Linked DNA regions of Homo sapiens: regions 1, 2 and 4 are each linked to region 3. Evidence: fine-mapped expression QTL. A gene starts in region 3. Each other region holds a variant in brackets. All regions are shown on one strand. Distances are between the middles of the regions.

Region 1 (8,106 bases), 44 kb before region 3:
TTACACTAGTACTAGTTGAAATGAGCCAGTCACACAAAGACAAATAGTGTATGATTTCTCTTACATTAGGTTCGTAATTAGTCAAACTCATAGAAACAGAAAATAAAATGGTTGTTTCCAGAAGCCAGGGGATAGAGAAATGGGGAGTTGTTGTAGAGTGGATATAGTTTCAGTTCTCCAAGAGGAGCAAGTTCTAGAAACTCATTACTCAACAAATGTATATACTTATCACTACTGCACTGTATACTTACAAATGGTTAATATGGTAAATTTTATGTTGTGCATTATCACCATAATATTTTTAAAAGAAGGGGCTTGTGTTTCCCTTTTGTGATCACCCATTTTTCACTTCAGCATTTTGAACTTTAGGTTTCCTGTAGCTGTTTTCCTGACCCCTGGAGATACCGGGCTCAGAATGTCTCCAGCACCTTGTAGGCAGATACTTCTCAGCATCTTATTGGGCTCTGTGTGCTTGATGCTTAAAGTGACATGGAGACATGCCACTTGCTGAGAGGCAAAGAAAGGCAAAAGGTGACTGCTTTCCTGGCTTCAATGAAGGCAGAGAGAAGGGATATTGGAGGCACAGATGTTAAGGCATAAGCAATACCAAGAGTTGCCAACAGAAGAATTAACCCCTGTCCTGGTAACATTTGCAGGTGTTTTTCACAGGGCCAGTGGATTTCATGTGAGTGCTGTCCAGCACCAAAGGAAATGGCCAACACACATGGAGCAGCCTGCAGCGTCCAGCACCAAGGAGGGTGGCCAGCAGGCATGGCGCAGCCTGCCTGTCCCAGGAAAGCAGGAGTCACAGGACACACTGGACCCAGGTAAACATGTATATTAGTTTCCTGTGGCTGTTATAGCAAATTACCAAAAATTTCATGACTCAAAACAACAGAAATTTATATTTTCTCACAGGTTTGGATTCCAGAAGTCCAAAATTAGTATCACTGGCCTGAAATCTAAGTATCAGCAGAGCCAATGCTCTCAGAGGCTGAGGGGAAAATCCATCCTCTGACTTCCTCAGCTTCTGATGGCTGCTGGCATTCATTGTCTTGCAGCTCCACCACTCCAGGCTCTGCCTTCTTGGTCACAGGGCCTCCTCCTCTTCTGTCTGAAGTTAAATCTCCTTTATCTCCCTCTTATAAGGATATATGTGCCAGGATTTAATGCCCACGGAGACAATCCAGGATAATCTCTCCTCAAGATCTTTAACTTAATCATACCTGAAAATATGCTTTTTCCAAATGAGGTAATATCTACAGGTTCTAGGAATTAGGACTTAATTATTAGCTCCCACTTATAAGTGAGAACATGCAGTATTTGGTTTTCTGTCTCTGTGTTAGTTTGCTTAGGATCATGACCTCCAACTGCATCCATGTTGCTGAAAAGGACATCATTTAGTTCCTTTTTATGGCTGTATAGTATTCCATTGTGTATATGTGCCACATTTTCTTAAAAAGAGATTTATTATGGGGTCCTGGCTTACATGATTATGAAGGCAAAGAAGCTGCCATCTGGAAGCTGGAAGACTCAGGAAAACTGGTGATTTAATTCTGTCCAAGTCAGAAGGCCTGAGAACCAGGAGAGCTGATGGTGTACATCCCAGTCCCAGGGGAGGAGAAGATAAGATGGGATGTCCCAGCACACCCAAAGAGGTAGAAAGAAAGGGGGCAAATTCCCCCTTCCTCCTTTTGTTCTACTCAAGCCCTCACCAAGTTGGATGATGCCCATCTCCATGGGGCCATCTATGTTACTGAATTCACTGACTCAAAAGCTAATGTCATCTGGAAACACTCACAAACACACCCAGAAACTATGTTTAATCTGAGCACCCTGTGGCCTAGTCAAGTTGGCATATAAAATTAACCTTCACAGTGTAATCCCAGGACTTTGGACAGCCGAGAATGGCGGATCGCTTGAGCTTGGGAGTTTCAGACTGGCCTGGGCAACTTGGTGAAACCTGGTCTGTTTCTTTTCATTTATTTATTTATTTTTGAGACAGAGTTTCACTGTTGTCGCCCAGGCTGGATCTCTTGTTGCAGTGGCACGATCTCAGCTCGCCACAACCTCTGCCTCCCGGGTTTAAGTGATCCTCGTGCCTCAGCCTCCCAAGTGGCTGGGATTCCAGGCGTGAGCCACCATGCCCGGCTAATTTTGTATTTTTATTTTATTTTTTTTTGGTGGAGATGGGGTTTCTCTATACTGTTTGGGCTGGTCTCCGTGCTCCGCCTGCCTCAGCCTCCCAAAGTGCTGGGATTGCAGGCGTGAGCCAACACTCCCAGTCAAGACCCGGAATGGAAAAACAAAACGAAAACCACAAAGATTAACCAGGCATAGTGGGCCGCACGGGTATCCCAGATACTCTGAAGGCTGATGTAGGAGGATTGCTTGAGCCCGAGGGCCCGGGGGTCAAGGTGGCAGTGAGCTGTGATGGCGCTGCTGCACTCCATACTGGGCGACAGAGCGGGACTCTGTCTCAGGAAAAGGGAAAGAAAAAAAAAGAAAGTAAATAAAATTGCTAAATCAAGGAACAGCTTGACAGTAATTATTGACAGAAATAGGGGCAAAAGTTAGCAGACACCAGTGTTCACTTAGTGGGAACTGCAGGTGTCCCCAGACAGGAGGCTGCTACTTCTCCAAAAGAAATCTATTATTGACTACCAATAAAAAAATACACTGTAGATTTGTTATGATACACAAATGGCTAAACTTTATATAGCCACGACAGTATTCTAGCACTGCTCTAAGCCTTTTCCTGCTCTGGAATAGCTACTATTGTTACCTCCATTGTACAGAAAACAGATGCCAGAGGGAGGACCATGGAAACTATGAAATTGACTTGTAAGTTTTGGACCTAAAGGTTCTTCCTGCTCTACTCCTTACATCGCCACATTTTAGTTAACATATCTCTTAAAATACTGGTCCTTTCTATATTTAGAGGGACTCCTCTTGCAATTTGAAGTGTTTTTTTGCACTAAGCATTTGGTCATAAGATCATCTGTGATTCATGTCAGTTTAAGTACCTCTTTAGACATTGTTCAGTTAGGAATGTAAATAGGAGCTAGCATTGTGTGTAAAAGGAAAGAACAGCTGCTTACAACCATTTTTGTTTCATAATACAAATGTAAATCAATATGTTATTGGAAATGCAGGCTGGGAGGGGAGGGGAAAAA[T/AAT]GCAGAGAGAAAAGCCCCATCTCTGCTTGGAGTTCAGCACTGGGTCTCTTTTCCCTTCCACCTTCCTTGTCAAGGCTGCCACAGTGACAGAAGCACACAGGGCTGCCTTTTAGTGACACCTGCTGGGACAGACCTGGCAGAAGGGATTGCACATTTGCATGTTTCCTGGCTGCCTCTGTTAGCCCCTGAGTCAGCAGCCCACTCCAATTCATGCTGAGCTTGGACAGCTCGGGTTTGAAAAATTCCCCCTTCCCTTGGAGCAACCGCTTTCCAGCCTCCTCATCATTCCAAAAGGAGAATGACCTACATGCCAGCATGACAGAGATCTGGAAATTTATAGAAGCTCCATTGTGAGCCTAAATCCTTAACAGGGGCTCAAACTGCCAACACCGAATGAACAGAGAGGTTTTGCAATAAAGCAGGAAGTCATTAAAATAATGAATCACCCGGCTGGGTTTTGAGCTCCTTTCCCACTAATTTAATGGAAAGATTTATTGTCTTTACAATGTATACTTTCAGAAATTTTGCATAAATTTATTATTTACATTTTAACATAAGTAACTCCTTTGTGTTTTATCACTGAGCAAATTCTATGTAGCAAACCAATGCTATATTTTGGCAAACTCACATTATAGCTTAGAAAATACTAAAGACCCATTGTAAACTGAGGGCAGCATTAAGCAAATTATACTTACCTTTGTGACTACAAAACTTAATGATTCAATGCTTTTCCTGTGAAATTTGTCTTTCAATGCTGATAGTCTTTTAATAAAAAATGTCAATTAAATATTTTCATATTTTCTCTTAATGCAAATATACAGAAAATAAATTTTATCTTAAAAGGTAGTGTTTCTCATGGGAGAAGAAATAAATTTTTTAGTTGCTTTCTCAACCAAGTATGTGAAAGGAAGTTGTTTCCCTTTATATTTTAATAATTAATTTAGTCAAGGCCATATTTGGAGCAAGACTGTTTCACTTTCGCAGTAGTAGAATTTTCAGTGTTTTATGTCTCCATTCATAGCCCATGACACGAGGTTTACTAGCTCCCCATTTTTGCTACGCTAAACAGGGATGCGTTTCCAGGAAGAGGAGTGCTGGGCACCAGGCAGGACTCTGGCGGCCCCACATGGCACTGGTCTCAGGATACACGGGCTGGAGGAAGCATCCGACCCGGCACTTCCTGTCCTGAGCCTGTTGTCTGATCCTCTGTAGGTTCTGCTTCCTTCCTGTCTTGGAGGGCTTGGGCAGGAGGGCGGCAGCCCTCCTAGAAGGGGCGCTCCTATGTGGAGGGGACGCTCTGCGCGGTCCGGGCCGTGGGGTGTGGGTTCTGTGTCCTGGCCTGAGCCTCTCCCAGGAAGCGACAGCATGGAGCCGGGGATCTGGTGAGGAGGTGAGGAGCGGAGATTGTTAGCCGCCTCCCTTTAAGGGCAGACACTAAAAAGAAAAGACGTTTGTGCAGAAAGGCCCCGCCCATGGCCTCCTGCCCACCTGGAGCTTGGAAACTCCCAGGGAAAGGCCCTGGAACAAATGCAGGCAAATGTGAGGATGCTCAGGCTCAGCTCTGCAAGGAGAGAACGAGCTTTCGGGTCACCATGGAGGAGTGGGCCTCACTGGTCAAGCCTTCCCCACTCTCAGCCTCAGTTTCCCCGCAGAGTGGGAAGGCCAAAGAGACTGTCAGCAAAGGGCCTGTGCAGGAGCCACAGTCGTGGTCAATACATAGTTGCCAGGTGCCAAGCGTTGCCTGAAACCAGACTCAACTATGCAAGAAATAGCAAGCCAGCAGACCCGGCTGCAGGATCTACAGGGCCTGTGCAAAGTGGAAACGCAGAGACACTTTGCGAAAGTCATTGTGAAATTTAAGACACCAACAGGAGAGGATTGAACACAGCAGGAACCCTCTGAGGGCTGAGCTCTGTGCAGCAGCACAGGTGGGACACTCATGACAGAGCCTGCCATCCTTTAATTTTTCTCTAAGTATTTTCCACAAAATGAATAGACGTCCCAATCTCTACTGACAGGAAGGAGGTTCAGTCTCTGATTTTGAGAACTGCCCTGCCCTCCGCCCACTGCTCACACAGGGCTATGCCAGGCCAGGTGTCCCATCACGTGGGACAAGCCTGCAGGATCCCTGGGCCTGGCCTCCAGCTCCTTCAGGCCCATTCCCTCTCAGGCCCTCCCACCACCTTGGGGATATAGAAACTGCAGGCCACAGCTGCTCCTGGGACCGACCAGCATCTCCCCTCACCTGTGCAGAAGCCTGTAGCTCCTGCCTGGAAATTTCAGAGCTGGCTTTCTCTCCACCTGACATGAGCTGAAAGGCCCATATAGCAGAATCATTCCCAAACAGCAAACTACACCCCCTCCCCAACCTTCACATTCTCTCCCAAGTTGAGGAACCCGCTTAGGAACAGCAAAGAAAGGGAAGAAAAAGCAAACACAGGAGTTTGCCTATAAAAACCGCCTGAAACCGAGCTTGCAGTGAGCCGAGATCGCACCACTGCACTCCAGGCTGAGCGACAGAGCGAGACTCCGTCTCAAAAAAAAAAAAAAAAAAAAAAAAACCGTCTGAAAGTCCTGAACCCAGGAGGCGGAGCTTGCAGTGAGCCAAGATGGCTCCACCGCACTCCAGCCTGGGCGACAGAGCAAGACTCCGTCTCAAAAAAAAAAAAAAAAACCGCCTGAAAGTTTACCTCCTGCCCCACCGTGATTGAGAGCAGACCCTTAACTCTCCCAGGACAACTGCTCTGGTTGTGTTGACTTCACATTCTGGCATCTGAGGCCGCTCGGAAGGCGTGGGACACAGACCACCACAGCGCAATGAGGACTGAATGGGGTCCATGGTCTTGAGAAATAAACACCCTCAGGAAAAAAAAAAAAACTCAGAAGGAAGGTCCTCTCAGATGAGAAGGGGTAAAAGTCCTTCTCCCTCCACATGGATCCACATCCCAGAGACTCTAGCCTGGCTTGGGAAAGCTCCCACAAGAGAGGCCAGCCCACACAGGTTATCTCATTTTTGTTCTTAGCTCTTGAGAGATGACAACCTGCTAACAGTCCTCGCTTGCTCTGGGCGTCTGCTCGGCCTCCTGGCCACGCTGGAGGAGCCCTTCAGCCCACAGCTGCGCTTTGGGGGCCCCTCTCTGGGGCTGGCGGAGGCCCGAGTGGGCTCCCTCTGCTGGCGGGGAGGTGTGGAGGGCGAGGGAAGGGCAGGAGATCCGGGCAGCGCTGGCTGGCCAGCGCAGGTTCAGGGTGGGTCCCGGCGTGGTGGGTCCCGGCTCACTGGGCCCCGCACTCCGTGCCACTGGCTGCTGCTGGGCTTCATCAGAGGCAGGGTCCTCTGTGTGGACTGCCTTTCCCTCTTGGAGGGGTCATTGGCTACGATAGCGGGTTTCCCTCTCTTTGTTGCTTCCTCTCTTTTCCTCTGCTTCCTCTGGGCTGCTGGAGTGCCCAGGCTAGGTACGGCAACGTTGGGCAGCGAGTACCAGTGAGAGATGAAGCCTGGCTTCTGGGATGGGTGGGGACTTGGAAAACTTTTCTGGCTAGCTAAAAGATTGTAAATGCACCAATCAGCACTGTGAATCTAGCTAAAGGTTTGTAAACATGCCAATCAACACTCTGTCAAAACGGACCAATCAGCTCTCTGTAAAAAGGACCAATCAACTCTCTGTAAAATGGACCAATCAGCTCTCTGTAAAATGACCAATCAGCAGGATGTGGGTGGGGCCAAATAAAGGAATAAAAGCAGGCCGCCCGTACCGATAGCAGCCACCATTCCCGTTTTATTCACCGCTGTAGAGGTGTTATTCTTTCGCTTTTCTGCTGGTTGCTGTGTGGTTCCACGGCTCTTTTATGAGCTGTAACTTCACCACAAAGGTCTGCGATTTTATTTTTGAGGTCAGCAAGGTCACTGACCCAGTGGAAGGAGGAACACCAGATCTGCCACCTTTAAGAGCTATAACACCTTTAAGAGCTATAACACTCACTGCCAAGGTCTGCAGCTTCACTCTTGAAGTCAGCAACACCAGGAACTCACCAGAAGGAGAAAACTCTGGACACACCTGAGCATCTGAAAGAATGAACTGGGGACATGAAACTTTAAAAACTGTAACACTCACCGTGAGGGGCCATGGCTTCATTCTTAAAAGTCAGTGAGAGCAAGTACCACACTACTTCTAGACACGCTAAGATCCTTCCCCTTGGGCTCTGTGCAAAACCTTGGAAATGTCACGTTTAAATATTTCAATGTGGTCTCTTGTGTGGAGGTGGGATACTGGACATGGAGGGAGAGCTGGGTTTCCATCTTTCAGCTTCAGGAATTGAAGGAAAAGAGGGTGTGCATCTGAGCAAAGTGGGAACAAGCAGCACCACTTGCTCGGACAACCTTATGACTCAGGAGGGCACGTGAGCACATAACACACTGCAGTCTCTCTTAAGGGAGGCTTTCCAGCGCCTCCAGCCACAGTGGAGGTTCCGTTCCTCTCCCAGAAGCCCATGAAGGTTTCTGCCAGACCCCCAAAAGCAGACAGGACCCTCACGTGTGGGGTGGGGTGTACATGGAGCAGGCAGCATTACTGCAAGATGTGGACAGGATTCTTTTTCAATTTCAGGTAAAGGTGGGGTTCCAGGAGCACTGCAGAATGGGCCCTCACGGCAGTGTCAGGGAAGATTCGTCTCAAAAGATGTTGCCTGGGTGGTAACAAAGGCCTGGCCAGGGACAGGCTGGGGCCTGCAACTGGGTCATCTGTCCTATCCTAGCCTGAGAACAGGACCAATTTAGTGCCCGTCAGAGTTTGCCTTAGAACGGAGATGGGGCCGCAGGTGAAGGCGGAGCGGCAGGTAGTATTCCTCTGGCTTTCCAGCTGAGGAAAGCTCTGTCTCAGGTCTGGGGAACTGTCCGCGGTTGTCGTTTTCCAGGGTTGGTATGTCCAGGCAG
Region 2 (8,106 bases), 110 kb before region 3:
GTCCTGTGTTGGAACCATAACTCCTAGTGCAACAATGTTGAAAAGTGGGGACTTAGGAAGTGATTAGGTCATGAGGGCTCTGCCCTCTGATGGATTCATTGCATCATGATGGAGGTGGGTTCACTATTATGCGAGTGGGTTCCTGACAAAAACGGTTGAATTCAGACCCTCCCCATCTCTTGCAGTGAGTACTCTCTTGCTCTTCCACCTTTTGCCATGAGATGACATGGCAAGAAGGCCCTTGCCAGATGAAGCCCCTCAACCTGGCACTTCCAAACCTCCAGAATTGTAAGAAATAAGTTTCCTTTCTTTATAAATTATCTAGTCTGTGGCATTCAGTTATAGCAGCACAAAATGGACTGGGACCATGTTCACATACCTAATCTGCTTTGCTAGGCAGAGTTGCTTGAAGGCAGAAACATAAATTGCCTCGTACCTTACAGTTGAGTGTATAGCTGAGCCATGAATGAAAGCAGATTTATTCATTTAATAGGCACATCTTTCAAGCAGGCTTTGATTATTCTCAAATTATTCTCACTGAGAGAAAGGACACCTCCCAACCACAGTGGTCAGCTGTCACATCAGTAAGTATTCAACACCCAGCTTTTAGGACCTCCCAGTCCCACCACACAGCTGGAGGATGCCACTGTTTGCAGAGAAAGGTGTCGTGCGATGAGGCATTAGGTGAGGGCAACTCACAAAATCAAAGCACAGGGGCGGTGGGCATCATGGCTGCCATTCATCACACAGGCTGCATCTGCCACCACCACCAGCCTTCCAGCAGTGGGAACCCCCGGGGCCACCACCTCAGCTGTGATCTCCCTGCAGCCCCTTCCTCTGTCCACTCTCTATTTGTGAAACAGGTTCACCAACAACCAATCCAATCCCAAGGGAGGACTCCACTGCATGGAGGAGAGCAACCATCAGAAACAGGAGTCCAAGCAATTCTGCTCCCTGGAGTGCAATGCTACCAACTGCCCAAGACGAGTGAGACAGAACACACTCACAATTGGTTATAGGAAATAGGTTTATTACTCACAGATAGGGAGCAGGGGACGAAAGAAGACTAGGTTCCACTGTGAGCCAGTCCCCCAAGGCTCAAGAAGCCTTCCCAGAGCAGATGGAGTCTCGACTTCATCTGCCCCGCTTCCACTACAGCTGAGGAAACCTGGCAGGCAGCCCACCCTGGGTTCTAGAACTCAGGGGACACGTGGCTCACTAGGAAAAGCTTTGCTAAAGCAAACGAAATATGGCCTGAGAAGGACTCCATACTTCTATATTTGAGTCCTTGTGGATGAACTATAACCTAGCTTAATAGGCAAAGATTGAAAACCTAACTAAGGAGTATGTGCTTGTAACAATATTAAGTCTTGGCCAATCCCAGCAGCCATACTTCAACCACTCACAGACTGCTGAGTGTTCAAACTACTCAAACAAGGCAAACGCCAACCTGTAACCAATCCAGCTGTTTCTGTACCTCACTGCTGATTTCTGTTTGTCACTTCCCTTTTTTTGTCTATAAATTTGTTGTGACCACGAGACACCCCTGGCGTCTCTCTGAATCTGCTGTGAATCTGGGGGCTGCCCGATTCGCAAATTGTTCATTGCTCAATTAAATTCCTTTCAATTTAATTCGTCTAGCTGAAGTTTTTATTTTAACAGCTTTGAAGGACGTGCTGCTTCCGGGAGAGAGAGAAACTAAGCCTGGGCTGTCTAAGACAGCCCCTCCCCAAGATATCACCTTCCCTAGGAGGGGCAGGAACAAGGCCCACTGTTCTGGGCAGTTTCTCCCTGTCTCAGGATATTGCATTCCCAGCACACGCCACACTTACTCTGCAAACCACAGGCAAGAAGTAAAGTGGGGAGATAGCCGGTTGGCCAAGGCTATCCCGGGACTGTCCAGTACTATTCAAGGCCCCCTCAAATCTCAACACTCGCTTCTTATGGAGACACCAAGACCTTGTACATTCTGGGGGAAACCTTCCCCACACTCTTGAATTCATTACCACATGCTCCGTGCTGGCCTGTCACATACGTGTAATGATACATTTGATTACTTGTCACTCTTTCTTTAATGCTTGTCCTCCCTGTAATTCTGTTAGGCCACAGATAAACCACTTCTAGTCCATGCAACACTATCTCCCTGGCCCTTAGCCCAATGCCTGGCACACAGTTGGTGCCCCCCAGTGTTGCCAGTTGGCTCACGGACCGACTGCCCTTGGAGTCATGCTGCTAGGGATGCTGCCCGGCCTCAGGTCCGAGAGCATCAGAGTGTGAATGTGAGTATTGACAAGTGAAGCTGACTTGGCTTCTGGGTCCGGTCGGGACTTGGGGAACTTTTCCGTCTAGCTAAAGGATTATAAACGCACCAATCAGCACTCTGTAAAAATTGACCAATCAGCAGTCTGTAAAATGGACCAATCAGCAGGATGTGGGTGGGGTCAAATAAGGGACTAAAAGCTGGCCACCCCCAGCCAGCAGCAACAATCTGCTTGGGTCACCTTCTGTGATGTGGAAGCTTTGTTCTTTCGCTTTTTGCAATAAATTTTGCTGCTGTTCACTGGGTCTGTGTTACATTTAAGAGCTGTAACCCTCACTAGGAAGATGTGCAGCTTCACTCTTGAAGCCAGCGGGACCACAAACCCACTGGGAGGAAGGAACAACGCCAGAGGTGCTACCTGAGGCACAACCTTTAAGAGCTGTAGCGCTCACTGCAAAGGTCTGCGGTTTCACTCATGAAGTCAGCAAAACCTGGAACCCTCCAGAAGGAAGAAACTCTGGTCACATCTGAACATCTGGAGGAAAGAACTCCAGACAGGCCATCTCTAAGAGCTGTAATACTGACTTCGAGGGTCCACGACTTTATTCTTGAAGTCAGCAAGACCAAAAACCCACTGGGATTTCAATGCTGGACACAGTATGTGACTGTGAGCCTGAATGTGTTCCGGTGAGTGGGCCTGAGTGTGTATTAGTGTACGTGTGGGGGAGAGTTTGGGTGTGAGTGCGCACACTCCACTGCACTTTTAGCATGAGCGCAAGGCTTTCAAACCAGAAAGGGCAAAGGTTTTAATTCTGTTCAGATTCGTGGAGTTCACGTCATGTTGTTTTAAGATGCATCCCAGCCGTGTTGCTTGTGTTTTCCAAAATGTGTATTTATTCAAATCTAAAGAAAGATGTGCATTTGGTTTTTAAAACTGCAGAGCGCTGAAAATCTGGCCTCTGAAAATCTTTTATCTGCAACTGTACTGGTTGCGGCTCTCTGGGCTCTGGCAAATCTGCATTTCACGCCACGTATTCCCAAACATTGCATGTCCTTGTAAACCACCTGGGCAACTCACTGAATCTTTGGATTGGTTCTGTCTGATCAGTTCTTTCCTGATGATGAGAAGCCAGGGTTCTGGCTGGGCACGGTGGCTCATACCAGTAATCCTAGCACTTTGGGAGGCTGAGGAGGGCAGATGGCCTGAGCTCAGGAGTTTGAGACCAGTGTGGGCAACATGGTGAAAACCTGTCTCTACTAAAACACAAAAAATTAGCCAGGCATGGTGGCGGATGCCTGTAATCCTAGCTACTCGGGCTGAGGCAAGAAAATTGCTTGAAACCGGGAGGTGGAGGTTGCAGTGAGCCAAGATAGTGCCACTGTGCTCCAGCCTGGGTGACAGAGCCAGACTCTGTCTCCAACAACCACGAAGAAGCCAGTCTTCTGTTCTCCGTGATATGCGTTAGTTCAGTCCCAGGAGCGTGGAGTAACCCTGCCCTTCCCTGCATTTGGAGTACGTGGAGCACGAAGCACACAGGTTAGCAACCAGGCTCAAAGAGCAGATAGCCTAGTTCAATTGCAGAGACCCCAGAAACCACAAGCTGTTGAGCTGCACTGCTTGTTTTCCATTACACATTTAGAAGTTGCTGCTTTAGGTCACTGGAAGAGTGCAACAGTGACAACAAACGAATAGCTGCTGCTTTGGCAGGGGTAGGTGAGGGTGTGTGGAGACAAGGATCACCATCCTTTGAATGGCAGGATTTTTCTCTCCCACGTTCATTTCCCTAGGCAATACCAACTCCCTGGGGGGCTGCTTCGGCTCCGGCCCCTCCACCAATGATGGTGGAGTCCGCCTGTCCCTCCTGCAGCTGTCTGTGCGAATCTACTCCTTTCACCTCTAAAAGCAACTCACAGCAGGCACCCTATGTTCCATGTAACACCTTTCTCTCAAAGCTGTATCATTTGAATTTGTCCCCATCATAGGAAGTAGCAAACCTCAGGAATTTCTTGCCAGTTTGTGTGCTATCTTCCTTAGCTTCGTTTGATTGGAGTTGCTCTCCTCCCTTAGTCAGCATGTGTGACTGCAAGTAACTCTGTAGTGGGTAGGCTTTGGGCGTGTAGAAGCAGCCTATGCCTCCCACCTCCACCAGCGGGAAGCTGGCCGGTCAGCTCGGATGCCTGCACAGACACACGTGCAGAGGCAGAGACAGAATCCAGGCATCCCTGTCTTTGAACTTTTAAGTTCCACAGGGTTAGTCAGCCATGAGGCTTGGGGCTGAACATCTATCTTGAGCTACCTATGCCGAGGCGATGGCCAGATGAGAGCAGGTGCCCTGTTGAGGTGCGGTCCTTGAGCAAGGGCAGGAGGGCTGCATGTGTACCAGGAAGGAGCGCTGTAGCCCCTTTGTCAGAGAGCAAGACCCAGTAATAATGGCAGGTGTGGATAATACTGGAAGGGCAGCAGCAGCCCTCAGATGAACACGTGGGGCCTCCACAGGAGGTGACAGAGCGCCAGGCAGGAGAACGCAGACGGGGGCGACAGGAGCCCTTGGCAATGGGAGGAAGAGGAAGGTGGCCTGAGGAAACAGGGGCTCACTAGGCCTTTCTCAGCAACAGCAATTCTCAGAAGTTGGTTCATGGATGCTCTTGTTTTGATATGATTAATTTTTAAGTAGTTTTTGGGCTG[A/G]AAAGGAAAAAAAAAAAAAAAGGTTGGGCAGATGCATCTGTTACTCCTACGCAGCATATGGCAGTAAACTGGCATTAATTTTACTATGTTTATGTGTTTACTAATTTATTATATTTAGTATGTTTATTATGTTTGTATGTAGTTATACAGAAACAGGAAATAAAATACAAATAGGTGGGCTTCTTTTGGTAAAGAAATTAGTTATTTTTAGTTGTGAGGTAAATTTCAGTCAATTCGACTTTATACAACTCTTGCAATTGATATGTCTTTCCATGATCTCAATTTTTAAAAAATGCAAACCTTTATTCCAAGTGTAATTATCGAAGGACTTTTTAGACATAAAACAGAAAGTTCCAGCTAATTACAAATGTGACCGACTAAGAGCATTTAACAGGACAAACCTACAAACTCAGAGTTCCTAAGAATCATCTACCTGTCAAACACTTCCAGCCAATGATATCCCTCTCCATGTAGCCAAACATAGAGCAGGCCGCATAAGAGGTTATTTTAAAAATGATTAATACCCAGCGTTGTCTTTCTTATTTGCAAACGATGGTTATTACTGTCATGGACCATTATGAATGGGAAGACAGACAGTAGGAAATGCTGCATTACCTATTAAAATTTAATGTAGAACGTCATCCCTCAGTACCGAGGGAGGATTGGTTCCAGGACCCTAGCGCATACCGAAATCTGCAGATGCCCAAGCTCTTTATGTAAAATGATGTAGCATTTGTGCATAAACTACACACATGCTCTCATATACTTTATGTCATCTGTGGATAACTTACAATACCTAATACAATATAAATGCTATGCAAATATTTGTTATACTATATTTTTACTTTTATTATGTTTTATTGTCCTATTATTTTTTATTTTTATTTATGACTATTTTCAGCCTGCAATTGAATCGGTGGATGCAGAACCCACAGATATGGAGATCCAATTGTACTTTGAAATTTCATTCTCATAAGAAACTAAGGCTTGCTGACTGTTTTCCCAGCAGTCTTCCAAAATTTACATTGGTACAATAAGGCAATCTAGATACCATGGCAGATCGCCCAGCTGAAAACAAGTAAAACTGCCGAAAAAAAATGTGGGAGAGATATTTTTACAGGCAGCAATAATTTGGCAAGTGAAGCAGAAGATTCAGCGACCAAAACTCCAGTGAAAATTGGAACCTAGGAGATGAGCTGGTTTTGCCTTGAGGGCATCTGGCAAACCCAGGGATCTCCAGCCTTGGAATTCCAGGGCCAATGGTGCAGGGAAAAGTGCAGAGCCAGCCCACACTGGGACCTGGGACACAGCCTCTCCAACGCTGCGGGACAGGGAGGAGCTTTTCCTGGGGTGTCCCGGTGGACTGGAAATGTACCCACTGTCCGTAGGACTAGCCGCATCAATCCTGAGCACTGAATAGAACGGAAAAACATTCCTGCTGATAATTCATGATCACCAGCCAGCCCTCAGGAGAGTTTTCAGCTCGAATTTGAATTACCCAGGTGGTCAGAAAAACCTCAAGTTGAGGATTCAGCTTAATTTCATCTCTGGCTGATGACAGTGCCCTGGTGCTCGGCAGCAGAAGGACCCACAGAGGCAGGCATCAAATCATTCCTGTGGATAACAGAAAAGTTGGACATGCAAAAATTCATACATTGGGCAAATCAGACCTGGAATTAAAAATAGACCGGCTCGGCCAGGCACAGTGGCTCACGCCTGTAATCCCAGAACTTTGGGAGGACAAGGCGGGTGGATCACGAGGTTAGGAGTTCAAGACCAGCCTGGCCAATGTAGTGAAACCCTCTCTCTACTAAAAATGCAAAAATTAGCCGGGTGTGGTGGCGGGTGCCTGTAGTCCCAGCTACTTGGAGGCTGAGGCAGGAGAATCGCTTGAACCCGGGAAGCAGAGATTGCAGTGAGCTGAGATTACGCCATTGCACTCCAGCTTGGGCAATAGAGCAAGACTTCATATAAAAAAATAAATAAATAAATAGACCAGCTCATACACCTACTATGTACCCACAAAAATTTAAAATTAAAAAAAGACCAGCGTATTATGTTTAAAGAACTAAAAGAACTGAATATACAAATAAGGAGCAAGAGACTTTATTAAACAATCAGGTCTGAAAAAGAATCTAATCAAATTTGTAGAAATAAAAAATATATAAACTAAAAATAAAGTTTAACATTAGGCTAGAGAATTTGTGACCTGAGACTTGGATCTGAAGAAATTATTCAGAATGTATGACAAAAACATGAAGAAATAGGACATGTAAAAGACGAGTCAAGATATAGGTGGAAACCAGGAGAAGTATTAACATATCAGAGTTCAGGAAGGAAAGGAGAGAGAAAATGAGATCAAGGCAATATTTTAAAAGATAATTCTGAGAATTTTCCAGAATTGATTAAAGACCACAATCCACGGGATGAGGAAAACCAATGAATCCCACACAGAATAAATTAAAAGGAGCCTACTCCTAGACAGTAACATAATATCATCTATGTGCAGAGGGAATTTTATACACTGGAACAAATATCTCTCAAAACAAAGAAGAAATAAAGATATTTTCAAATCTACCACTGAGCAATTTTCTCACCTACAGACCGTAACTAAAGGAATTTCTAATACATGGTCAGAGATATATGAATTGAAGAACAAAAGAAATATTAAATATCATAAAATATAAATATTCATTTGTAAAACAACAACACTGTGAGATTTTAAAACTACAAGATCAAAGGTAAAATCAAAATAGGTGGCAAATTAATCACAGCACAAAAGTCAGAAAAACTGAGTTGTGTTTAGGATGAAAATAAAGATGTGAACTTTAGGTTTTAATAAGTTAGGCTAGAATTTCTAAGGTAATTGTGCTAGGCTTTGTTTTCCAAAGGTAGCTGCAACAATATTTCTCATCTGACGTGTCCTTCCAAAAGTGGAGTCTAATTCCCTTTGCCTTGAACCTGGGCTAGACTCTGATTTTCTTGTCGTCAAAGGATGTGGTGGAATGATGTTGTGAAGACTTCTGGGTTGAGAAAGCAATGCACTGCCCTCTTCTTCTAGGGTCACTGTCTCCTGGAACCCAGCTGCTGTGCTGTGAAAAGCCAAGCCCTATAGGAAGGTCCATGTAGGAGCTCTGGTGGCCAGCCCCAGCTGAGCCGA
Region 3 (8,106 bases):
ATTGAAATAGTTTCAGCATATGGCATATGTTGACATTACAAAAATTACATGCTCTTTTAAATGTGTCCAGTGGAATCTAAACAGCCTGAAAATTATATACCCACCATCCCCCAAATTTAAAAATGTGTGAACATGGCTGGGCGTGGTGGCGCACGCTGGTTATCCCAGCACTCTGAGAGGCCGAGGTAGGAGGATTGCTTGAGCCCAGGGGCTCCAGAACAACCTCAGCAACACAGCAAGACCTTGTCTCTACAAAATTTGTTTTTTAATTAGCTGAGCATGGCAGAAGGTGCCTGTAGTCTTAGCTACTCAGGAGGCTGCGGTAGGAGGATCACTTGAGCCCAGGAGGTCAAGGAAGCAGTGAGCTGAGATCACATCACTGCACTCCAGCCTGGGTCATAGAGTGAGACCCTGTCTCAAAAAAAAAAAAATGTGTGTGAACAATCTCCTCCTTAAGTATCCATTTTTTCTACTGCAACTCCTGTTTTCATTCCTCTTCCTCCACAGAATTTTATTATAACAATTTCTTATGCTTAAAACTCTTCTGTTCATCACACTATCAGGTTTCTTGCTACAAAAGCTATGTATAAAAACTTACAATTTTAATTTTCTTCAACATGTCTCTAAATGTTAAATAACTTTTTCCAGTTATTGTAAATGATGTATTCCAGTTATCATGGTTATTAACACTCAATTCATGAAGGTAAAATGACTACATTATAACTTGATAATTATTAATAGTGAAAATATACACTTATCAGAAACACATCTTATAACGAGATAAATGGTACTAAAACTGTTTTCAAATTACTTTATGTATCCATGGATGAATATTACTTATCGGTGGCATGACACATGATTCGGTATCAGTTGGATTCCTATTTTTTATATATGTAAGCATGGCGAAAAACGTTTTTACATGAGTAAATACATCTGAATGGAAAGTGTTTTGTTGTAAAGATTCCACTCCTTCTAAGTTATGTGCTGAAAATTACATGAAGATTGATCATAAAAAAATTTTTTTGAGATAGTCTTGCTTTGTCACCCAGGCTAGAGTGTAGTGGTACAATCATGGCTCACTGCAGCCTCAAACTCCTAAACTCAAGGGGTCCTCCCACCTCAGCCTCCTGAGTAGCCAGGATCACAGATGTGTGCCACCACGCCCGTTAATTTTTATTTTTAGTAGACGCGGGGTCTCACTATGTTGCCCAGGTTGGTCTTGAAATCCTGGGCTCAACCAGTCCTCCCACCTCAACCTCTCAAAGTGCTGGGATTACAGGCATGAGCCACTGCACCCGGCCTAAAAATTACTTTTAATGATCTAATCCATCAGTTTATAAATTGACTAGATCCTCTTTCAGTTCATGGAAAGCAAAGAACTAGAACAATCTGACTTGCCAGAAGATTAGTAACACAGCCATTAGTCACTCACTTTCTCACACTTTCCCAACACTGCAAATATCCTCTGGTGGGTGGGCTGTGGCCATGGCCAGGGAGGCCTTCCTCCTCTGGGCTGATGCAACATTGCCCTGGGTGGAAAGATCTGCTTGGGGAGGGAGCTGGGTGCTGTGGAGGAAGGCGGGGAAGAACTGCATCTCCATCAGGGCCTGCCCATGAAGATGGTGTTAGGTTCTGGAACACAGCTTGCTTAACACTGCCTGTGCCCTTGCAAACTTTGTGTCTTGCTGGGGCTTGTAGATCCCAGTTTGCAAATGGTGGCATTGTGTAAATCCCAACTCCCTCAGGCAAGGGCAAAAACACATCACCTCAAACTGTGTTTTGTGCTTTTTTTTTGGCAGGGGGACTAACGTTTTATAATTTATTTATTCATATATTTAGCAAACTGTTATGGAGGCTCCTGTACCACCTGACCCACCCTTCAGCTGAGAGCCCCACTCATGCTGGGTACCCAGGAAACTGCAGGCCTGGCCTGGAAGCTCAGCAGCTGAGTGGCACATTGCAGGGGATGAAAAGCCAGGAGGATAAGGCGGCCTGGGGGGACCCTGAGGGCAAGAACTATGAGATGTCCTCCAGGCGAGAGAGGAAGAAAGCCACTGCGGGGAGGATCGGCCTGGAACCCAGACTGACAGCTCTTCCTTTCCAAACACAGCCCCCAAGAGATGGAGAACCCAGATGGCCCCATTTCCAGACAAACAAATGCCACTGTTTTTGTTCTTTCACAAATCTGGTTCCCTTGACAATTAAAACCAAGTCATAGCTGGGTACAGTGGTGTGTGCCTCTAGTTCTAGCTACCCGGGATGCTGAGGTGGGAGGATCACTTGAGGCCAGAAGTTCAAGACCAGCCTGGGCAACATACTGAGACCCCCATGTCTATAAGAAAGAATAAAATTAGGTTATAGATCATATTTTAATAAACTTGTTTTCAGCACAATGTCTAATTTTAAAAATAAAAATGTGCTCTTAGTAGTCAGACTTGGACTATTGCTGTTGTTTAAAAAAATACACACACCTTTTTCTCAAAAAGAGATGATTCTGAAAGTTTTCCAGCAGGAAACATCTCTAATGTAACTGGAGTTAATGAATGATGACTTAGGTAAAAGACACTTTCTATCCATGCTGCCATGCCAGCCTCCTGGTCCGCCAGGGAGAGCTGTGGCCTGCAGCCCAGGGGTCATGAGGGTGAGCTGGCCCAGGAGGACCACGTGGAATGCTTCACAAGATTGCCTCAGATGGAAGGGCATGGTATAGAAGGCAAATCAGAGGAGGAGTGACATTTTCTGTGGTTATAAGGAAGACAGGTGAGGCCGAGAGCTTGAAGAAGGGCTTGCAGCTGTCCTGACATTAAAAGGCTTGTTCATTATGGGGGTCATGAAGCTGTTTCTCATCTTGCTTGGGCTCTTTGTGGAGGACAGATGTGACACCCTCACATCCTTGAGGCTGGCGTCTCAGATTTTTTGGTGGCGAGTCCCTGAGGCCCACTCGAGTGAGCCAAAGGCAGGAGCCCATGGGATACTTGGCCAGGACCCACATCCCTGGAACCTGGGCTGTGTGGGGCCCTAGACTAAGATCTCTCCTCGACCAACTGCCAGCCAGGCTCCTCTGAGTCCTCTTCTCAACAATACCTCCACGCTGGCCTATAAAGACTTCAGCTAACACTAACATGGCATCTAGCAACTCATGGCCACATCCCTAGGATGACACCAGCCCCCCTTATAGTCCCTACCTCAGGAAACTCAAGACCGCCAAAAAATACCCTGTTCCAGCCAATCCCTGCAGCTACGGCCCCTGTCTCCCGGCCTCTGTGGGACATCAGGAGCTAACTTCGACCAGAGCCAGTTAGCAGCCCAGTGGGGCCGGCCCCTCCTTCCTGGGCTTTGCAATTTCTCACTTCCTGACTCCAGCAAGCCTTCCCTCACCCCTCCCTCCTCCCTTGGAAAAATCCACTCACCTCTGTACACATCCAAGCTGACTTCAGTTCACACTGTAACCTCTTCCCCACTGCAACGGTTATTACTGTGAAAAATCTCTCCTGACCCTCTCACTACTGCCTGGCTTTGTTTGTCTTTGACACTCTGGGTTCAGGTAGGACAGGGTGTGCCCGGCCACAGCCCCCTCAGTAACTCCAGGCTGGCCCACTTCCTGCCGTGTGTGAGGTTTTGGAGTGGCAAGTTTGTTCTGCTTTGTTTCATGGTTTTCAGTCCCTCCCAATATCCCCTGGCCTGTGGTCACCACAGTCAGCCCAGGCCAGCAACTGACCCAGGCTGGAGGTTAACACCACGGAGCTGCCCACACGTGTGTGCCCGAGTCCCTGCCCATGCCTCAGCAATGGTCACAGGCTTCTCACCTCCATTCAGCCCCCCTATTTGGGGCCCTACCTTTAGCCAGCTAGCCAAGTGCTCATTGTAACCCAGTATTTGTATTCATTCACCATAGAAAATTTGTCAAATGGGTAATGCATTTCTTTTTACCCGCCTCTTAGTGACTGGGCTTATGATCAGAATCAAGTGCTATTTTGTGGCCACTGGCCCCTCATTGGCCCCTTCCTCAAACCCATGCTGGATCTGGAGTGAAATGCCCTCAGGTTGACCCCTGCTCGGAGCCCAGGCCAGGTGAGACCGGCTGGTGGGTGCACTTGGAGATCACACCCCAGCTGCTCAAGGGACACTTTGAGCTAGAGCAACATGCATCAGTGTGCACAGAGCCCTTCCTGTGCACCCGCACTGCAACTAGAGCTTTCTAAGAATTGTCTCACTCCATCCCCAAGAATTGTGTGGCTGGGGGGATATGCTCACCCACATTTTGCAGATGGCAGAGAGTCTTGCAGAGCTGCCAGCGTTCCTGAGGCTCACACAGCCAGCCATGTTGGGGCGGATGCTCCGGCCTCTCGTCTGGCTCCAGAGCGAGGCAGCGCCTTGCAGCACATTCCCAACAATTTCCTCATTGGGAGGCTTCCTAGGAAACCAGCCTCCCTGCATATGTGGACACTGCGATGCATCAGCCCTATGCCTGCTTCCTCCCAAGCTGAAGGCACCCACTCATGAACCGCCCTTGATATGCCAGGGCATCTTACGCTGCACTGGGTTCCTATTTATGTGTAACCACATTTCACTACCTAAACAATGCCTGTTTATTATCTCATGGTTCTGGTAGATCAGGACTGTAGACAGCCTTGAGCCGAGTCCTCTGCTGAGAGTCTCCCAGGCTGAAATCCAGGCATCAGCACAGGCTGCAGGCTCATCTGAGGCTGGGGATCCTCTTCCAGCTCACTGGTGCTTGGCAGGATCCAGCTGGGCTGTAACACTGAGGTCTGTATATTCTTGCTGGCTGTCAGCCAGGGGTCACTCCAAGCTCCTAGAGGCCACTCTCACATTTGGAGAGTGTCAATCAAAATATGACTGGGCAGCGGCTCACACCTGTTCTCCCGGTACTCATAGAGGCAGAGGCAGGAGGATCGCTTGAGCCAGGAATTCCGGACTTGCTTGGGTGGCATAGGGAGACTGTCTCTACAAAAGGAAAAAAAAAAAAAAAAGAGCAAAATATGGCAGCTGACTTCCTCAAGGCCAGAAGGAGGATGTCTATTGCTGCCTCTTGTCTCCTTTAAGGGATCACCCGATTAGGTCAAGCCCACTCAGGATAATCTCCTTTTTATTGACTCAAAGTGAACTGATCAGGGACCTTCACTACATTTGCAAAGTCCCTTTTTGCCTGTTCACACTGAAACCCTGTTGTCTTCACAGGAGTATCCCACACTCAAGGGGAGATGCTATTCAGAGTATGTACATGAGGGTGGGGACTTTGGGAACCATGTTACAACTCAGCCTACCGCACTCCCCATTATCAAATTCTCCCAGTCCCTCTTCCTGAGGCCAAACCTAATGCTGGAATTCCTCACCCCTCCCTGGACCTCAGAATAGTGAACTTCACTCTCACTTAAAAACAAGGACAACTAAATGACAGACCTGGTATTGTAGAAACTCAGGAGACTGTATTGCCTTCATGCACCAACTGGTGACAGGAATACGTGGATCTGTGAGTCAAAAGGGTACACTCCACTTAGACTCATGGAGGACGGGCACCTTCTCCCCACCCAGGCCCAGCTCCACATCGTTCTCACACTGTCACTGTCAGACTGACCTCTGCCCATTCAAAGCATTGCACATAAGCTTGGGCATAGCTTGCTTGCTTGTGAGGACTGAAGTTTGTCCAGACAGATGAGGCTTTGCTCAACACCTTGGCTCCAACCATGTCACATGGATCCTCCTCCACATTCAGCATTGCAGATTGGCTGAATTCCAAATGCCTCACAACTAGGGCAAAGGAAAGGCAGGCCTTCTGAGACAGAAGGGAGACAGTGAGTTATCACAGGGCAGCTCACGTAATAGGTATGAGCCATCCATGAGAGTGGTTGCCCACTCCTAGAGAACAGAGGGAAACGGTGAACAAGACCGGACTCCCAACTTGCACTATTCAACAAGAACCCACGAGAACTGTGCCGCGCTTAATTGAGTATTCCTGCCTCCCCGGCAGCCATCAGCTAGCATGCAACTTTAATCTGTCCTATTAACTGATGTCTGCATGTGGTGAAGGAAGAAATTCACATGGTTCAGAAGGGCCATCAGTGAAATCACAGGCCTTCTCACTCCACTGAGGTAACCACTGTCCGTAGCTTCTGGCTCCAGTTCTTCTGTGAGTTTCCATTTATGTCTTTTTCAAGTAAGTCCTGAGAGATTTCCCCAGCTTTAGCTTCCAGATTTGCAACTTGGTGTTCAGCCATTTCCAATTTATTATCCTGCTCTAACCTTTGGCTCATGTTTCATTTATCATGTTTCAAAATTCCAAGAACACATTATATTTCTCTAAAACTCCTTTTACACAGCAGTCCATTGTCATTTTAAGGCTGTATCTTCCTGTAGTGTGTGTGTGTGCGTGTGGTGTGTGCGTGTGTGTGTGTGTATACACAGTCACTTGTCACTTAACAACAGGGATACACTCTGAGAAATGCTCATTAAGTGATTCTGTCATCCTGCAAACTTCATAGATAAACCTGGATGGCATAGCATCCAACACCCCTAGGCTGTATGGGACGGCCTATTGCTCCTAGGCTACAAACCTATACAGCATGTTACTGTACTGAATACTGTAGGCAGTTATAACACAATGGTAAGTATTTGTCTATCCAAACATATCTAAACATAGAAAAGATACAGTAAAAATGTAGTGTAAAAGATGAAGAATGGGACACCCGGATAAGACAATTACCATGAATGGGGCTTGCAGGACAGGGAGTTACTCTGGATGAGTCAGTGAGTGAGTGGTGAGTGAATGTGAAGACCAGGACATTACTGTAGAATACTATAGACTTTAGAAACACTGTACACTTAGGCTGCATTAAATTTATAAAAAATATTTTTTTCTTCAGTAACAAACTAACCTTAGCTTTCTGTAACATTTTTACTTTACAAACTTTTAAATTTTTAAAAACTTTGGACTCTTGTAATAACACCTTAAAACACAAACACAAAATATGTTGTTTCTTTATATTCTAATACTCTAAGCTTTTTTTTCTATTTAAAAACTTTTTAAAAACCTTTTTAAACTCTCTCGTTAAAAGTTAAGACACAGCTAGGTATGCTGGCTCACACCTATAATCCCAGCACTTTGGGAGGCCAAGGCAGAAGGATAGTTTGAGTCCAGAAGTATGAGACCAGCTTGGGCAACATGGTGAAACCACATCTCTATAAAAAATACAAAAATTAGCCAGGTGTGGCAGTGTGCACCTGTGGTCCCAGCTATTCAGGAGGCTGAGATGGGAGGATTGCTTGAGCCCAGGAGGTGGAGGTTGCAGTGAGCTGAGCTAGCACCACTGCACTCCAGCCTGGGCAACAGGGCAAGAGCCTGTCTCAAAAAAAAAAAAAAAAAATGAAGACACAAACAGACACATTAGCTTAGGCCTACACAGACTCAGGATCATCGATATCACCACCTTTCACCTCCATATCTTGTCTACTGAAAGGTCTTCAGGGGCCATGACATGCATGAATCATGGCCGAGATCGCCCAATGCACTTCAACCTGGGCAACAGAGTGAGACCCTGTCCCAAAACATTAAAATATATATATATAAAAAATAAGGCCTTCTTCTGGAATACCTCCTAAGGGACTGCCTGAGGCTATTTTACAGTTAACTATTTTTTTTATAAGTAGAAGGAGTACATTCTAAAATAAAAAGTATAGTAAATACGTAAGCCAGTAACATAGTCTTTCTCAAGTACTTAGTCTTTACTATCAAGTACTTGGTACTGTATGTGATTGTATTGCTATACCTTTACGAGACTGGCAGTGCAGTAGGTTTACTTCCACCAGCATCACCACAAACACATGAGTAATTGCACTGCACTAAGACATTAGGATGAGTATAATGTCACTAGGAAACAGAAATCTTTTAGTGCCATTATAAACTTATAGGACCACGGCTGTGTTCATCACTGAACAAAATGTCATTATATGACATGACTCTGTGTGTGTGTATATATATATATATATATATATGAGTGTATATATATATATATATATGAGTGTATATATATATAGGGCATGTATATATACATGTAATATTAATATAAACAATTATATTACACACATGCA
Region 4 (8,106 bases), 120 kb before region 3:
CTTTTTTTGTTAATCTAATTCATAGCCCAGTCAAAGAACCTAGAAGGGTGAAGGGAAGCCCTTTTTTCCTTCACTACACTGCCCTGTCATGAAGGTAATAATGTGTGAAAGGAAAATAAACCTTGGGACTCCAGAATCACTAAGCCAAAATCACTAAGGGAAAAGTCAAGCTGGGAGCTGCTCCGGCCAACCTGCCTCCCATTATATTCCTAAATAAGACAGCTACAAAGACAAAAAAGCTACATATCTCCCTCACAATTTTCCCGCAAGAAAATTCCCAGTGGATGAAAGACAGGGCTAAGTTGTGATTTTTTCTTATTTTGCCCAAATTCCTATCTAAGGAGTCTGGGGAGTCATGCCCTACAAACCACAAATTCTCATCAGATGGGTTTTATTTAACCCTATATATCGTGACTTACTTTCCAATGTGACTCTGGCATAACATTTTGTGACAAAGAAGAAGATAAAAATATTTTACCCCAAAATATGTTTCTTTGCCATATTTTGAAATGGCCCACTACACTGCCCTGTCATGAAGGTAATAATGTGTGAAAGGAAAATAAACCTTGGGACTCCAGAATCACTAAGCCAAAATCACTAAGGGAAAAGTCAAGCTGGGAGCTGCTCCGGCCAACCTGCCTCCCATTATATTCCTAAATAAGACAGCTACAAAGACAAAAAAGCTACATATCTCCCTCACAATTTTCCCGCAAGAAAATTCCCAGTGGATGAAAGACAGGGCTAAGTTGTGATTTTTTTCTTATTTTGCCCAAATTCCTATCTAAGGAGTCTGGGGAGTCATGCCCTACAAACCACAAATTCTCATCAGATGGGTTTTATTTAACCCTATATATCGTGACTTACTTTCCAATGTGACTCTGGCATAACATTTTGTGACAAAGAAGAAGATAAAAATATTTTACCCCAAAATATGTTTCTTTGCCATATTTTGAAATGGCCCTGCAAAGCCATCCTTTGTGGGGGAAAATTTGCATCTGTAAAAAATCTCTATCAACATAGCTAGATCTTTTTCTTCCAGGCCCCCCCACCCAGTCCTGAAGAGATTAACTGAGAGTCTAGTACCTTTTGGAGGTCTGAATAGGAAATATTTGTCATTTATTGTCTCTATGGGCAGCCACTATAAGACTTCAAAAGAATCTTGGTCTTTACAATCTTTTATCTTAACCTGAATATTCCATTTCTTTCTTTCTTTCTTTCTTTCTTTCTTTCTTTCTTTCTTTCTTTCTTTCTTTCTTTCTTTCTTTCTTTCTTTTCTCTTTCTTTCTTTCTTTCTTTCTTTCTTTCTTTCTTTCTTTCTTTCTTTCTTTCTTTCTTTCTTTCTTTTTTTTCCCAAGAGTGTCTCACTCTGTTGCCAGGCTGGAGTGCAATGGGGTGATCTCTGCTCACTGCAACCTCTGGCTCCCAGGTTCGAGGAATTCTCCTGCCTCAGCCTCCTGAGTAGCTGGGATTACAGGCAGCCACCACCACGTCAGGCTAATTTTTGTATTTTTGGTAGAGACAGGGGTTTCTCCATGTTGGCCAGGCTGATCTGGAACTCCTGACCTCAGGTGATCCACCCGCCTCCCAAAGTGCTGGGATTACAGGCGTAAGCCACCATGCCCGGCCCCGAACATTCCCTTTATATCCATCCCAGGTCTTCAGACAAACTCAACCGATTGCCAACCAGAAAATGCTTAAATTCACCTATAGCCTGGAAGCCCCTGCTTCAAACTGTCCTGCCTTTCTGAACCAAATCAATGTATTTCTCAAATGTATTTGATTAATGTCTCATGCCTCCCTAAAATATATAAAATCAAGCTGCACTCCGACCACCTTGGACACATGTTCCCAGGACCTCCTGAGGGCTGTGTCATGGGCCGTGGTCACTCATTTTTGGCTCAGAATAAATCTCTTCAGATATTTCACAGAGTTTGACTCTTTTCGTCAACAACAGACAGAACTCAAAGTCATCCCTCTGCTCATGTGAGACAAATGCAAATCTGATTGCTTCCTTTGCCCTATTGTTTCACTAAGCCAGATTAAGGCGTAAGCGACTATTCCTGTAAATGGCACATTCAATGAAGAGCTAATCAGAAACGCAAAAGGATGCAACTGTTTTTCTCTTTTCTACCTAAGACCTGGAAGCCCCCTCCCCACTTGGAGTTGTCCTACCTTTGCAGACCGAAGGAACCAGTGTTTATCTCTTGTCTCCCTAAAATGTATAAAACCAAGCTGTGCCTGGACCACCTCGGGCACATGTTGGGACCTTCTGAGGCTGCATCACAGGTGCATCCTTAACCTTGACAACATAAACTTTCTAAATCGATTGAGACCTGTCTCACATACCTTTTGGTTTACAACTGTGAAATATATGTGTATCTGAAATATATATGTAAATATATGTGAACGTTCTCTTAAGCTGTCAGGTGAGAGGCGCTGGTGTATCATTTAATTACCCACCACCATGGTTCTAACAGAGCTGGCCAAACAAGAGAGGGATGTGATCTGACTCTTCAAGTGAGCCCACACAAGCACAGCAGACAGATCCTAGCACCCAGTCTTCCTATTTGAGAATACTGTGGTGCCAGCCAAGGCAAGGAATTACCCGATTTTATTACATCCCATACTCTTAAATATGTATTAGATACCTACAGCCTTGCTTGTGCCGATACCATGGAAGGATGCAGCAAAGATTGCAGACTTGCCTGGTGACTGATGGCGACATTAAAACAGGCAAAAATGCCCCTCTCTGATCTTCCTCACTCTCCGAAGGCATAGGAGTTGACTTTCGGATAGCAAATGCAGCAATCCCTGGAGGGTTTTCAGCCAGCCGCCTGTGTGGAATTTAAAGTATTATGCATGATTAATTACCAAAAAATTCAGGCAGGCACTCTCTGTCAGGAAAGTGTTTAAAACCTTCCTGGTGGCAGATTGTGCTGCTAGCAAGAAAAATAGATGCTTCAATACCACTCAGTTTCCAAATGCATTTCCTTTCAGAAATGCTTGTGTTAGCCTGCAAATATGTGCTGTCCTACTCTGGCAATTTTAGATGCGCAGCCCCGAAGCAAAGGCTCCTTCCTGTCCTGCCAGAGAAGGGGGCGCGATTGGATGCCATGCAGAGGTGCATGACACGCATCACAGGTACGTGGCTGCCTGTCTCCTGGGCACCCTTTCCATTTTTCCTTTGCAGAATTTGTCTATGCAGCATATTAAAAATCTACCTCTACCTTGATACACTGAAGTTCTCGCAGTGAAAATGTTTATTAAGAAACATATCTGTGCCAGCCGTGGAGGCTCACGCCTGTAATCCCAGCACTTTGGGAGGTGGAGACGGGTGGATCACCTGAGGTCAGGAGCTTGAGACCAGCCTGGCCAACATGGTGAAACCCCATCTCTACTAAAAATACAAAAAAAAAAATTAGCCAGGTGTGGTGGCGGGTGCCTGTAATCCCTGCTACTCAGGAGGCTGAGGCAGGAGAATCACTTGAACCCTGGAGACGGAGGTTGCAGTGAGCCGAGATTGCGCTATTGCACTCCAGCCTGGGCAACAAGAGGGAAACTCTGTCTCAAAAAAAAAAAAAAGAAAGAAAGAAAGAAAAAAAAGAAACAGATTTTTGCCAGGCATGGTGGCTCATGCCTACAGCACCAGCCAGTTGGGAGGCTGAGGTGGGAGGACAGTTTGAGCCCAGGGGTTCCAGCCTGCAGCGCACTATG[A/G]ACTCTCCTGATGAAAAGCCACTTATTCCAGCCTGGGTTACCTCACCCCCCAAAAAAAATGTTTTGGAAAAAGCTTTAGTTCCAGAAATGTGATCATCTTGATATAATTTTAGAGGGAATTGTTTTTCATAGCCACCACAGTGGAGGGAAAAGTGCTTTCTTCTATCCTTCTAGGTACTTTCGTTGGTCTACAAAATAAGTTGACATAAGACACATTAACCGGAGAAAAACACTTTTAATTATGTACGTACTCACAGGGAGTGTGACAAACATAGGAGACTCAACAAAGCAGCTAGATGACTGAGACTTATACGCTCTCCCTATCCTGAGCTACAGAAAGGAGCAGGGGCTTGGGCTTTGGGGGAGAGTGGAGACATGTTATGAGAGTAAAACCATCTTTGCAAAATTATAACTGAGGAAATTATGACAGTGAAAGAAATCAGACCTAACCAACTCCATCTTGCTTCTAACCCTTAAGCTGTCCTTGTTCGTTCCTGGGCATAGGCAGAACTAACTTTGGGAAGGAATTCAGCTCATGGTTTGACCCTAAAACAAAATTGATAACAACCCTTTCCTGAAAAGAACCCCTTCTTGCCTGGGACCAGTCTGCCTTTGCAGGACTAACAAATTAGCTACAAGATTAGAAATTACAATTTAGGGGTCATGCAGCCTCTGGTTCCAAGAGTCTGAACCTCCCCAGATTGCTCCTGGGGATAACATCACTATTGTAAAACCTAAGATCAGCACTTGAGATATCTCGCAGACCCTGCACTCAATGGATCAGCTGACACTAGCTAAACTGGTAATCCGGCCCAACCAGTTCTGCCATGGCACCCAGGAATAGAAGACATTAAAAAAACCTAACTTCAACCCCCTGTGATTCCATCTCCAACCTAATCAATCCCCACCTCCCAAGCCCCTATGTGCCAAATTATCTTTAAAAACTCTGATCCCCGAATGCTTGGGGAGACTGATTTGAGTAACTATGAAATTCTGGTCTCCTACACAGCCGGCTCTGTGTGAATCACTCTTTCTCCATTGTCGTTCCCCTGTCTCGATAAATCGGTTCTATCTAGGCAGCAGGCAAGGTGAGCCCATTGGGTGGTTACAAGAGGGTAACAAGAGGGGAGGAAATGTATGGTGAATAAGCATTGCCTGGTTACCCAGATAAAAGTCTCTCTGTCAGAGGTGTTTCAACCAGAGCAACTCCATATTGAATAGGTGCTAAGTAAGATAAGGCTGGACCTGCTGGGCTGCATTCCCAGGAGGTTAGGCATTCTTAGTCACAGAATGAAATAGAAGGTCAGCACAAGATACAGGTCATAAAGATCTTGCTGATGAAACAGGTTGCAGTGGGCCGGGCTCAGTGGCTCACGCCTGTAATCCCAGCACTTTGGGAGGCTGAGGTGGGAGGATCATGAGGTCAGGAGATCAAGACCATCCTAGCTAACCCGGTGAAACCCCTTCTCTACTAAAAAAAATACAAAAAATTATCTGGGCGTGGTGGCAGGCACCTGCAGTCCCAGCTGCTCGGGAGGCTGAGGCAGGAGAATGGCGTGAACCCAGGATGCCAAGCTTGCGGTGAGCGGAGATCGTGCCACTGCACTCCACCCTGGGCAACAGAGTGAGACTCTGTCTCAAAATAAATAAATAAATAAATAAATAAATACAAGTTGCAGTAAAGAAGCTGGATAAATCCCACCAAAACCAAGACAGCCATGAGCATGAACTCTGGTCGTCCTCACTGCTACACTCCCACCAGCGCCATGACAGTTTACAAATGCCATGGCCACGTCAGGAAGTTACCCTACATGGTCTAAAAAGGGGAGGCATGAATAATCCACCCCTTGCTCAGCATATCATCAAGAAATAACCACAAAAATGGGCAACCAGCAGTACTCGGCGCTGCTCTGCCTATGGAGTAGCCATTCTTTTATTCCTTTACTTTCTTAATAAACTTACTTTCACTTTACTCTGTAAACTCGCCCTGAATTCTTTCTTGCATGACATCCAAGAACCCTCTCTTGGAGTCTGAATTGGGACTCTTCCCCATAACATCTCTGTTGTAAAATTATCTCTGTTCCTAGTACAGCCATCTTTACTAATGAAATGTTTTTGTAGGTATAAATTTCCTGTACAAAAGGGGAACTTTTTGCTTTGTTTTAGCAGTTGGGGGAGGTAAAGCACTTTCTCTGCTTTGGCTGATTCTTAACTTATTTTAGTTCAAAGTAATGAATATGCCAAAGTGGAATATTTGGTGATGGCGTATCTTGAGCCCTCTGTTCCAGCTAAATCCTGCTTCATGAGGAAAGAAGAGGGTCCTTTAGAAGTGCCATCATTGCTCGAGATGATCCTGTAGCTGCCCTGCAATTAATTGTATAAACATACTAGGTGAACTTGGAGTTCTCCTAGAAAATAGAAGAAAACCCTGAAAAGTCTCTGTCACTCTGCAGGTTATGACTACCATAAGGACATGTTATACAATACACGTGACCATGCTTGCAGTTCTGTTCTGCAGGATGCCATGCAGCCATGCATGCTAAGGTTAGAAAAATAGACTGAAAACATAAGATAGACTGTTAAGTAATAAAATTAAGAAATAAAATAGTATAAACTGTACATTTTTAACCATCCTATTTAAAAATTAATTTTCTAAAAAAACACTGAAAGGCCAGGTGTGGTGGCTCCCGCCTGTAATCCCAGCACTTTGCGAGGCCAAGGTGGGTGGATTACCTGAGGTTAGTAGTTCAAGATCAGCTTGGTCAATGTGGTGAAACCCTGTCTCTACTAAAAACACAAAAATTAGCCAGGTGTGGTGGGTGCCTGTAATCCCAGCTACTCGGGAGGCTGAGGCAGGAGAATCTCTTGAACCTGGGAGGCGGAGGTTGCAGTGAGCCAAGATCATGCCATTGCACTCCAGCCTGGGCGACAGAGCAAGACTCCATCTCAAAAAAAAAAAAAAAAAAAGAAAAGAAAAGAAAAGAAAAAAGAAAAAAACACTGAATGGAAATGGATCACATGATTCTTTTCTCCCCACTTTTCTCTGTTTACCAAATCCCTTTATTGAGCAAGTATTACTTTTACAATGATAAAGGAAAAGAAAGAAAACAAGGAGTGACAGAGCTCAAGGCCGGAGACCATGCTGCTGATGGGCTGTGTCATCTAAGTCCAGCTCCTCTAATGTTTTCTGAGCACCTGCCAGGCTCAGTGGACACACTGGGATACTACTCAGGGCAAGACACCATGTTATCCTCCTGCAGCAACAATCGCTCCCTTTCTGTACCGCTCACACAACTTCACCTTGCCTCATCTCAGCAGATGCAATGGATCAGAACCTATGGCTAAATGACCTTGTCAGCACAGCCACCTGGATGTTGTATGGCAGATGCACCTGAGAGCAATAACTTTACCCCGAGAATGACCCTGTGGCCTAAGAAGAATGTGTGTACCTTGTCCCAAGCTAAGGAATCCAAGAGTAGCAGATCTGGAGAGTCTTTCCTTATCCATGAAGGATGTCCAAACCCCTGGCCCATCCTTTGGAAAGCAGGCCATACAGAGGATTGAGGCCCTTTGTTTTGGGTCAAATGAGGTTGCCAGGTGGAGATGGCTAGGTGGAAGGTGCTAAGTGAAAATGTGATATAAACTGCATGCTTTTTAGAAACAGTAGCAGTTCTCCAGTCTAGCCCACTGCCACTGGACTGTCCCTGTGTGTTTGTAAATTCTTCAGATAAACCCCGTGACTCACTTATTATCTCTGGACTTCTTTTTTGGCCTCTCAGACATACTGCCATCCTTACGGGAGTCAGTACGGGTTCAGCACAACAGTTGTGACATTCTAGACCACTCTGAAACCACCTTTGGCAGTGAGGGAAGTCTCACATGGAAAAATTCTGGCAGTGAAAGAAATTGGACATCGCTGATTCCACCCTACTTCTAACCTCACAGGATGCCCTTGTTCATTCCTGGGCGTAGGCCAAACTAACCTTCAGATGAATTTAGTTTATAGTGTAACTTTGAAACAAAGATGACAACATCCCCTTCCTAAAACTAACCGCCTCCTTGCTCTGGGACTGAAACCACCTTTGTAAAACTGACAAATTAGACACAAGGTTAGAACTGTGGTTCAGGAGTCTTGCAGTCGAAGGTCGCAAGATTGCAACCTCCTGTAGGGAACGTCACTACTGTTAAACCTAGGACTGGTATGTGAAGTGTCTTTTGGACCTTGCATTTTGATGGACCAGCTGTGGCCACCTGGACTGGTAACCCATACCAAGACAGTGACTCAGCTGGTCTTGTAACCTTCACCTAGGAACTGATTCAGCACAAAACGACAGCTTCAACCCGCTATGATTTACCAACTAAGATGGACCCTAAAGTTAATGAAACAGAGTT

Alleles and levels. Positions count from the first base shown, and alleles are read on the strand shown. Sizes are in standard deviations (SD) of each study's normalised expression. Not every link is listed here.
With allele T in place of AAT in region 1, the expression in subcutaneous fat of the gene that starts at base 4,461 in region 3 is lower (moderate effect, 0.43 SD a copy in FUSION).

Evidence for each region. PIP is the estimated chance that this variant, and not a neighbour inherited with it, causes the effect.
Region 1: its variant is the best candidate, but not a certain one, in a credible set for the expression of LINC02346 in subcutaneous fat (FUSION, PIP 0.72).
Region 2: its variant is the best candidate, but not a certain one, in a credible set for the expression of LINC02346 in subcutaneous fat (TwinsUK, PIP 0.66).
Region 4: its variant is the best candidate, but not a certain one, in a credible set for the expression of LINC02346 in nucleus accumbens (GTEx, PIP 0.57).

Annotation. Positions count from the first base shown.
Region 1 is chr15:25,942,811-25,950,916 of GRCh38, reverse strand. All of the region lies in intron 1 of LINC02346 (long intergenic non-protein coding RNA 2346), which reads right to left. Among named protein-coding and RNA genes, the nearest start is that of LINC02346, 45 kb to the right of the region's middle. RefSeq lists an enhancer at 7,577-8,077. The variant T/AAT (reference allele first, on the strand shown) is at 3,177.
Region 2 is chr15:26,012,171-26,020,276 of GRCh38, reverse strand. It overlaps LINC02346 (long intergenic non-protein coding RNA 2346), which reads right to left. Exons shown (of 5, transcript NR_040082.1): 2 at 4,256-4,943. Among named protein-coding and RNA genes, the nearest start is that of TRE-TTC2-2, 66 kb to the left of the region's middle. The variant A/G (reference allele first, on the strand shown) is at 4,947.
Region 3 is chr15:25,898,715-25,906,820 of GRCh38, reverse strand. It overlaps LINC02346 (long intergenic non-protein coding RNA 2346), which reads right to left and starts at 4,461. Exons shown (of 5, transcript NR_040082.1): 1 at 4,255-4,461. RefSeq lists an enhancer at 7,939-8,106.
Region 4 is chr15:26,023,269-26,031,374 of GRCh38, reverse strand. The region is part of intron 2 of LINC02346 (long intergenic non-protein coding RNA 2346); the gene reads right to left. Among named protein-coding and RNA genes, the nearest start is that of TRE-TTC2-2, 55 kb to the left of the region's middle. The variant A/G (reference allele first, on the strand shown) is at 3,715.